Linked DNA regions of Homo sapiens. The protein of the gene in region 1 purifies or fractionates together with the protein of each later gene. This does not show direct contact. Each region holds a gene or a part of one and is shown in the gene's direction. Other genes may lie near its edges.

Evidence for each region.
Region 2: the proteins of NYAP2 (region 1) and CYFIP2 purify together in Homo sapiens (affinity purification with western blotting, with the first as the bait; one study listed by BioGRID). This does not show direct contact.
Region 3: the proteins of NYAP2 (region 1) and ACOT9 purify together in Homo sapiens (affinity purification with western blotting, with the first as the bait; one study listed by BioGRID). This does not show direct contact.

The regions. Positions count from the first base shown.
Region 1 is NC_000002.12:225,406,210-225,409,901, forward strand, and holds part of NYAP2 (neuronal tyrosine-phosphorylated phosphoinositide-3-kinase adapter 2), read left to right. Parts: intron 1-2,654; 5' UTR 2,655-2,671; coding exon 2,672-2,892; intron 2,893-3,692.
Region 2 is NC_000005.10:157,269,103-157,272,794, forward strand, and holds part of CYFIP2 (cytoplasmic FMR1-interacting protein 2), read left to right. Parts: intron 1-221; exon of another isoform or gene 222-481; intron 482-3,692. UniProt on the Homo sapiens protein: Involved in T-cell adhesion and p53/TP53-dependent induction of apoptosis. Does not bind RNA. As component of the WAVE1 complex, required for BDNF-NTRK2 endocytic trafficking and signaling from early endosomes.
Region 3 is NC_000023.11:23,702,916-23,705,368, reverse strand, and holds part of ACOT9 (acyl-coenzyme A thioesterase 9, mitochondrial isoform a precursor), read left to right. Parts: intron 1-288; coding exon 289-376; intron 377-524; coding exon 525-675; intron 676-1,386; coding exon 1,387-1,475; 3' UTR 1,476-2,453. UniProt on the Homo sapiens protein: Mitochondrial acyl-CoA thioesterase. Catalyzes the hydrolysis of acyl-CoAs into free fatty acids and coenzyme A (CoA), regulating their respective intracellular levels. Regulates both mitochondrial lipid and amino acid metabolism.

The DNA.
Region 1 (3,692 bases):
CCAGCCTCCTTATCCATGCCCTTCAGGACAGCCTCACAGCCTCCTCAATATTACAAACTATTATACTTTTTACATGTGGACAAGTAAACAAAGAGGTGTGATGTTTAGACATTGACAGGGCCTGTGACCGTTTTCGGAGACTAACACGACTGTTGAAAAATATTTCTTGTTCACCCTTAAAAACAGTGAAAATAAAACATGTATGACCAACTAGTGAAGTCCACCTAAATCAACACTAGTCACAAGTATTGCAATTATTTATTTATTTTGCTCTAACACTGCCACGAAGACATCTAGAGGGACACAATTCTGCCTTCATTAGGGCTTTTCATAACACGTGCTCAACAAATACTTGAAAAAAAAGAATGGTCATGGAATTTAATACTTTTCTAGAATTAGGTGGCAGGAGCATGTGTACAAACATTTATTCAATTTTCATTACTTTGAAGTTTTACTAGATGTGATGGTTCATTTTCATCTCAAAAAATTTGATCTCCTTTTTGTTTTTAAAAAATGCATCTTTCTATAGTGTAAATACTTTATAATATTATTAGTTAATAATTTCTCAGAACAAAAATAATTTAAATTCCAGCCAATTTGAAAGACCACTTAGGAAGGTAATTAACTTTCAGAGGTAAACAAATAAACTTATTGATATTTGGAATATAGAAACTGCGTAGGAATCTCTGGTGTCATTTTGGTTGGAGGAAAACTTAAGGAAAAAAATTAAAACCTTTGGGTAATAATGCCTTATTCAATTGGGAAATATACAATTTTGCTAGAGGGCAAAGAAGGAGTGATCATCTTCCAGCCGGAGGCATTATCTCTAGAATTCTTGTAATAGTGACTTGGCTTGCTTAACTTGGGTAGAATTAATTGTCGTGAAGTTATGCTGATCTTTTTTATCCAGGCACTCCTAGTGCAAAAGTCCTTGGTAGAAGTGAATTCCTGACAATGGCAATGCTTTAGCTCTCTGAGAATCATTTTCTTGTATTTTTCCCCAAATTGCAATCATTTGTAGCATTAATTTACTATTCTTCATGTCCATCATGTAAGCATCTAATCTGATGGACTGATAGTAAAATACAATTCAATTACACCAGATAGTTGGAATTAAAAGTCCATTTCATTTGCTAACCCATTACAGCTTAACATAAAACAAAACATACAAAAACTTAACATAAAAATCAAGAGTCAACAAACAACCTTATCTAGACTCCAGTTTCAATAATTTCTTAGATAGGAGAGAAAAATCCTTAAATTCAGGATGGGTTCCAAATCAAATATGGATTGACTGGCAGCTGAAATGCTAATAAAGTCTGATGAGAAGTAAAATTTCCATAGTTATTATCCAGGTTTTGGAACATGACTATACCTGTAAAAAAATCAGAATGAAAATTATTTGTAATTGAAAAAGTGAAAGTCTGGGAGTTTTACATCAAATAGTTGGGCTGATATTTAATAATATCTTTCTAAGTTTTGTAAAGAAAGAAAAACATGCAAGGGAATTGATAACTTTTGAATGGAGAAATTTTTCCCCTTGTTAATTGACTTTGCTTTTGGTTTTTTAATCTGACTCAATTATACCAGTTTCTTATACCACAATTAATATGCAATTAGGACAGTAAGCCTTCCTTCCATCCATCTGTCCATCTCCCCATCTAGCCACACATATCCATTTGACATTACTATTGCTGCCAGTTCATACTTTTTAATGATAATATTAGCTAATAGTATTATATACTTACTATTGTTGAACTCTATTCTAAATTATTTACAGTCTTCATCTCTCATAATCTTCACATCAGCAGGAGGTAGGAGTTATTACTAGCATCATTTTACAGTTGAGAGTAATATATACTAGTTGAAATTCCTATGCTTTTTTGTTTTGTTTTGATTTAATTTTGGTTTCTCAGTAATCTTTTCTGAGGCTCAAGTTTTGAAAACTTCATGTAACAATGAGACAACAGTTGTCAATGCTTGAATTACCAGACTGGTCAGGACTAATGTGGTCCTAGTGACCTATGATATGTTAGTTGTAGTATGAAGGCATTATGGAGGAACATTATGGAAAGAAATGAAGAGTTAAAAAGGATTCTTTTCTAGAAAAGTTATATTAGAAATGTGTTTTTCTTTTACTACTACTATATTTTGCATACATAGTTCAGATTCATACATTTTAATTTCAAAAACTAAGGAAAGCACATATATGTACAAAAGTTCTTTCCAAATAATTACATCATTTTACTTGAAATTGAACAGAAAAGTCTTTATGGCAATCAGAAATACATGAAGTTTGGATCTTATATACCTTCTTTGTGTGAAAACACATTTTAAGAAACAAAATTATTATTGTAATTATGCAACCAAATGTTTAACTTTGCATACAGTATTTACCCCTTCCCATCATATTTTAGTTCAAGAGCTTTGACCTTTGTCCTGCTAGTGTTGCTGCTTTGAGAGAAGGTTTGCTATTCAGGTAGCACTTATTTAATATTTACTTCAAATATTGTGGTTGTAATTATTCTAGTGAGATATTTTCTCCAATCGGATTTGGCCATAATTATTGGAGTTTTGAGTTGTTAGGGATAATAAACAGCACCTTGCTTTTTTCCCCACCCTGGATAAAAGTAAAATGTGTTCTCACCCTGCAGGCAGTGTTCCTCTTTACATGATATCCTCCAAGATGATGAGTTCTAATCCTGAGGAAGACCCTTTGGACACATTTCTCCAGTACATTGAGGATATGGGGATGAAGGCCTATGATGGCTTGGTTATTCAGAATGCGTCAGATATTGCTCGAGAGAATGATCGCTTGAGAAATGAAACTAACCTAGCCTATTTGAAAGAGAAGAATGAAAAACGCCGAAGACAAGAAGAAGCAATAAAGCGGTAAATATAAATAAAATTATTTTGAGTTTTGTGCACATGAGAAAGTCCATGAGGGCTGCTAAAGTTGTGATGTTGTCACTTGGTCAGAAAAGGTCTTCCAGAGTCAGTTAGACTTGGTGAGAGCATATGAAAGCGACCCCTCAACTATAACAAAAACACCACCCACACTGCCAACAGCATCCTTAGTTAACAAAAGTTATTTCCTTGTGTGTGTGCATATGCAGCTACAGACAGGATGGGGAAAAATTCAATTTCCTCTGAACAAAAGCTCATACTCAATAACCTCTTGGCAAAGACGCAAGGGAACACACAAACCTTTTAATAGCCCAAGATTGATGAAAATCCCTACCTTTAATGGCCTTTGGTTATAGTTCTTACCTTTAAATAGAGCTCATCTTCTTTCTAGATTATGGCCAAGATACATCAATAATTATACTTACGTGAGCCTCTGAAGGCAGGTAGAATCCTCAGGGTGTGCTCTCCCTATGCAGACTTTTATGGCTGTTAAATTTCTTGTTTGTTACCAAGTGCCACAAGTTTGTTCAAATGGAATTACTTTTATGATGCAAAACCTACCAGCTACTAGCTGGTGAGCCCCAGATGGTGGCCTTCCAAATTGAGGTTAAATTTCCTAGAGCGCTGACACCAAAAGAAGAATGCATATCTTTTGATTTTTTAAAAAGAATGTTACAATGTTTTCAGTTTGCCTGTGTGTGTGTCTTCTGGTGGTACAGAGAGAGACACCTGTGTCAGATGGAGTCCTGTTTCTTCAAATAAAGTTCACTTACTAAGTGCAAAAT
Region 2 (3,692 bases), on another chromosome or scaffold:
AGAGCTTTCCTGAATTTTGCTTTTTTGAGGGAAGTTGGTCTCTGTGACCAGTAAACCCAGCCCCAAGTTTACCGGCCGAAGGAAGGGAAAGTTAAGAGTGATAGGGCATGAAGTGAAAGGCTTCAGGTGGGAAGTGCTCTTAAGTAGCACAAGAGAGGTGGGTGGAACCTGAGTAGGTAGGGAGAAGTGGGAGGGAACAAGCCAAGCAGAAGCCCAGGGCCATTCTCACATTTCAACACGTAGAGTTAAGGAAGGGCCTCTTCCTCTGTGAGAATTCAGCATTTTGCAACCATCCAAAAATGTTGAGGGCATGCTTTGCTTCCAGGGCAGACAGAGCAGCACAGTGAGCATGGGACACAGGATCCCTGACTTGCTGTGTGCCCTTAAACCAGCCACTACCTCTCTGACGTTCAAAATTGAGCAATGGAAGGCAGCCTGCCCAACTGTTACCTGCCTGTCATCATGAAAGCCTGCGGATGAGGTAATGTCTGTAAATCCCAGTCTGAGAAAAAAAAGCCGTGGAAATAGAGAAGGAGCCTCCTGAATGTGTGACTCTTTTGGGTAAATGCCCTCCATTCCTTAAGAAACAATTTATTAATTATATATTGTGTGTCACTTTAAGAAGATGGATCTGTGGCCTCTCTGTACTGTTGAGCCAATGGGAAGCTTAAAGGCACTTTGTGATTCACAGATTCTGTCAAGGCCCCTGGATGGCCTTGTCTGTACAAAGACACTTCAGAATTCAGTCAGTGGGTATGGGACGCCTCCCAGGATGCAAAGAGCTTAGATATTGGCTTTCTAGCCATGGGCATTATGCTAAGGGCTGTGTGTGATGTACCTCAAAAAATAGCCATTTAAGCCATACTTGGGCCCTGGCAACAGAGGGTGCAAATTCTTGAAAGAAATTGTTTTGAGAAGGCAGAGCTTGAGTTCAGGCAGAATTTCTTGCAGGGATCATTCTGGTTGCGTGGCATTTTGATAGACTTTGGGCAACTCAGATACAGGCAGTGAGAGAGGGAAGTAAATAGGACCTTCTTGCGAGATGCCTGAGAAAGACCCAGTGATGACTTCATCAGTAGACCTTTTGATTCTGTTTGCGTCATTATTTGGTCATTGTAGAGCAATGGTTCTTAGGCTTTAATCTCTAGGTAAAACAGAGGTGTGTTTAGTCTGTCCATGTTCTCTGTTTTCTAAGTAAGGCAGGAGGTGAGGTCCTCTGCAGGAAATAAAGGTGATGGACTGGTTAGGAAACTTCAGGAGACTTCAGGGTTTGGAACAGTTGCCTATGTGGGTGGAATAAGAAATAAACTGGGGAAGAATGAGAGAATTGTCTAACTTCACTGAAGGCCTGGCTGAGATCAAAGAGAATTTGCAGGGCTGACCCTCAGAGAAGACATGCAGTAACTCTTAAGGAATATCCGAGAACTATTTTTGATTTGTGCTTTTAAAATATGATGCTTTAAGATTTGTTTTGGCAAGATATGAATGGCAAGATAAGAATTCAGAACTAGAGGTCAGCCCCCTATCTCCAAGTCTGTTATACTTCCATATGGGAAAGAGAAATGAGGACCTGCTTCTTAGGGTTTGAAGTGGAAACTATACGACAGAAGGATTTTCTAAAGAACTCTCCTCAGATTCTTATATTGACAAGGCAGCCTTGGATATGGGACCTTAGAGAAGCATGATATTTTAACTTTCTTGTTAATTTTTTTAAACCAGAAGTTAAGAATTTTGGTCATTGGCTCATGCAGTCAACAAATCATTCATGAAGTATTAATTAAGCAAGTAATTCCTGGTGTGTGCCTATCTCTGTGCTGGTTGCTATGGGTCAAACTCAGATAAGATGACTATCCTTGGCATTCTTAGCAATCCAAAGAATTAGTGAAATATAAAGCAGTTTGTCGTGCAGTTAAAAACTGTGGACTCTAGACTGTGAGTGCTAAGGGAGTGAGAGAAATAAAGGTCATTAAGGGGCTTGGCTGGTCAGACCTTTGTGGAAAAGGCATGTCTTCGTGTGGGCCATGATAGATCGGTAAGATTTGAGAAGGGAAGAAGACAGTCCATAAGGGAGTGGAGACAGTTTGAGCAAAGGCACAAAGGAAGAGTATCCTTGGACAGGTTTATTATGCCCTGTATACCTTGGCCACAGAGAATGGTCTGCATGATCCTTAACACATGTCTTTAAGGAAGCCCTTTGGATGGAATGTCTCAACTGTAGTCATGGTCATTTGCTTTAGTGTTGGGAGGGTCCTGAGAGAGGCCCAAATCCAGTGATTCTTAACTGGTTGCTGTTGTGGTTTTTTTAGTACACAAAATGGACAATGTTGACATGCTGAACACATCAGCCCCCACAGCCAACCCCCCAACTCTGCTCCATTCCTGCCACTCAAGGGAAGAGATGAACATGCAAGCAATAATATCACACAGAGATCTTGAACCCTCGCCTCACATACAATAAAATGTACCTTGTTTGCAAACCTCAGTGCTTAAGCTATTATTAGCACAAGTTACCCGCAATAACCTTCACAAGGCAGGTTTGGACATCATGGTTGAGAGAGAACCAAGGCTAACCTCCACATTTTACAGACAGAGAAATTTGCCCTTTTAGAGTGAGTGAAAATGTGATTTGGGGGCCTTTGTCTTCATACTGAGCCATGTTCGAGTTGTGGTTTCACATCGATGGAGCTGAGTTCCACGTGCTCCGATCTGGTGGCCAGACCTGAAGCCCTCCTCTTTGTTTCCGTAGCAGATGCATGGCTTCCCTTGTGAGTTTTAGCAGGTGCATCTGAGAGGCAGCTCCTCTCCCCACATACGCGTCATGTTGGTGTTCCTCATATGACAGCCCCAGGGCCCCAGCAGGAGCAAATCAGCAAGCCACCTTGGTGGCATGACTTCCCCTCCTGAGAGCATGAGGCCGTTCCCCTGAGCTGCTGGTAGCCTGGTTTGGTGTCACCACAAAGGCCACCTCAACCTTAACAACACAGGAAGCAGCTGGGCAAAATGGCAAACGAAGGGGAAAGTCCTTTAGCCCCCACCAAGATCTTTTTCTCTGTCTACTCAGTCTACTCATAAACAACGAGGAGGATAGGCCTTCTCCAGTGGCCCAAGTCGAGGCTGACTTGATTTCTCGGCTCTGACTGCAGGTCCCCTGTGTGGAGAGAAGCTGTAGGTGATAGGGCCTCTGGTCCCGGAGGACAGGAGCAGGGGACTGAAACAACAAAGACCACCTTGCCAGTCAGTGCTGGGTACCGGCCAGGTGTCTGAACTGCTAACAAGGAGACTTTGGGTGGTTGTCTTCTAAAGCAAATTATTAAATTTTGATCAAAACGATATATACAAATGTTTTAAAAAATCAAATAGTATTGAAAGCCTTATAATGAAAAACAACCATCCAGCACCCACCCTCCCCTAGAGGCTGCCACTTTTAACTCACTGTTTCTTCTAGTAGCTGCCTCCAGATCTCTAAATGATATGCTTACACTGCTGTTTCTCGATTTATCTATTCTGCACGTTGTCTATTTACTTCCTGCTGTGATGGATGGAGATTTCACTTTCTTACACCATCTCCCTCCCTCCCCTGCCCCCGTCTCTCAAGATAGGAAGAGCTCTATTTTAACCTAAATCAGGTTTAAAGTGTCTACATTATTAATATATATAAATGATGATCACAGACAGCCAAGTAAAGTCCTTTG
Region 3 (2,453 bases), on another chromosome or scaffold:
TTGATCTTCATTTTAGAAGGTTGTTTCTCTGACTTTGTAAGTTCATACATTAAAAAAACTACTGAGAAAATACAGTGATGATATGTAGAAAGGAAAAGATATAGTTATTTTGGCCCTAATCTGCTCACGATGGCGTCTCTTACCATTTCTCACTGGTAGGATCTTTTCCCCCTTCTCTAACTTTATTCTTCGTTCATTTTTATTTTGCTTCAGCTAGTTGTTAGAGGAAACAATTGAGATCATCTGAATTTTGCAATATACCCCAAATTCTGTCCTTTCCCCCAACAGTGGTTCTCGACCGTTTGTGGTAGCAGTAGATGACATCATGTTTCAGAAACCTGTTGAGGTTGGCTCATTGCTCTTTCTTTCTTCACAGGTAGGTGTGTGATGAGAGATGACATACAACTTTTTTTTTTCATTTGAGCCTAGAAGTTTCTATATCAAAAAGCCACTGTTTTCTCTTATGACTGCCTTTTTCCCCTTCCTAATGCAGTTGACTGATTATAGTGTCTATAATCTGTTAGGTATGCTTTACTCAGAATAATTATATTCAAGTCAGAGTACACAGTGAAGTGGCCTCCCTGCAGGAGAAGCAGCATACAACCACCAATGTCTTTCATTTCACGTTCATGTCGGAAAAAGAAGTGCCATTGGTTTTCCCAAAAACATATGGAGGTAAGTAGTGATTATTGCTTGTCCCTAACAAAGGGAAGAACTTCTAAGGACATTTTTCTCCTTTTGAATTGGAGGAAGTGTATTGATGCCTGTCAGCACAAGAGCATGTCTTCAGGAGATTTTGCTTTTGAGATTTGGCAGCCCTGAAGGCCAAAGATGCCTGTGGCCCCCAGGCGGGCAAGCAACCACTGGTAGTCAAAAACTGATCCAGCCAGGCTGGGCGTGGTGGCTCATGCCTGTAATCCCAGCACTTTGGGAGGCCGAGACGGGCAGATCACGAGTTCAGGAGATCGAGACCATCCTGGCTAACACGGTGAAACCCCGTCTCTACTAGAAAAAAAAAAAAAAAAAAAAAATTAGCCGGGCACGGTGGCGGGCACCTGTAGTCCCAGCTACTCGGGAGGCTGAGGCAGGAGAATGGCGTGAACCTGGGAGGCGGAGCTTGCAGTGAGCTGAGATTGTGCCACTGCACTCCAGTCTGGGCAACAGAGCGAGACTCCGTCTCAAAAAAAAAAAAAAAAAAAAAACTGATCCAGCCAAAGGAAGGGGACAGGAGTCATGGCCTGCTCCTTTGGGAATGTGGCACACCCCGGCCCAACAGTGTATCTTGTTCTGTCCCAGTGTTCCCAAGTAGTCTTGTGTTTGTATGATGATATGATGGTTTTCTACGGTATTACAAGTTTCTCCAAGGTTCTCTTTCTTGTGTTTCAGAGTCCATGTTGTACTTAGATGGGCAGCGGCATTTCAACTCCATGAGTGGCCCAGCGACCTTGAGAAAGGACTACCTTGTGGAGCCCTAAGAACACCACATTTGTTGAAAACTAGCACTCTACCCACAGTGACGTGGTATCTGATGAAGACCTGATCGAGTGTATTGATTTTAGTATTGCTTCGTGTCCTCCACACAGGAGGAGGATGTATTCAGCCTTTAGGATGATCAGAAAAGCAGAAAGAGAGAGTGGCCGGATGGGGCTGAGGGGAGAAAGAATTATTAAACAATAAATACTTTCAAGACAATTTTAATTGTGAACCTACCATGTTGCCTCCCATCTTCTGAAAAAACAAAAAAATTGAGAGGCTGGGCGTGGTGGCTCATGCCTATAATCCCAGCACTTTGGGAGGCTGAGGCGGGCGGATCATGAAGTCAGGAGATCAAGACCATCCTGGCCAACATGGTGAAACCCTGTCTCTACTAAAAATACAGAAAATTAGCCGTGGTGGCATGTGCCTGTAGTCCCAGCTACTTGGGAGGCTGAGGCAGGAGAATTGCTTGAACCCAGGAGGTGGAGGTTGCAGTGAGCTGAGATTGCACCATTGCACTCCAGCCTGGGCGACAGAGAGAGACTGTCTCAAAAATTAATTAATTAATTAATTAATTGAGGATACCATTGGATGCATTCTTTTCTTACACATATTGCAACTGTCAGTATACAAGGTTTCCTGCCAGGGTATTTGGATGACGTTCTTTAAACCTAACCACTTGCTCTGTGCTGTCTAAATCCCATCAGCCGTACATGATTCCTTTGCTTCCCTCTATTTCCCAGCTTTTGTTGTCAGAGGGTAGATGAAAAGTTGGGGCGAAGGGATTTAACAAAAGTTACTGCATCCGTAAAGATTTGTGGGAAGATTTAGGTCTGAAACCATACCATTAGAAGGTGTTTAGAGATGATCTAGATAAGGAAATACAGGACCATTTGGTCATTCTTTCATTCACCAGACAGCTATTTAGCACATTCTGCTAGTGGCTCCGCAGGATATATCTGATTTAAAAAATAGGA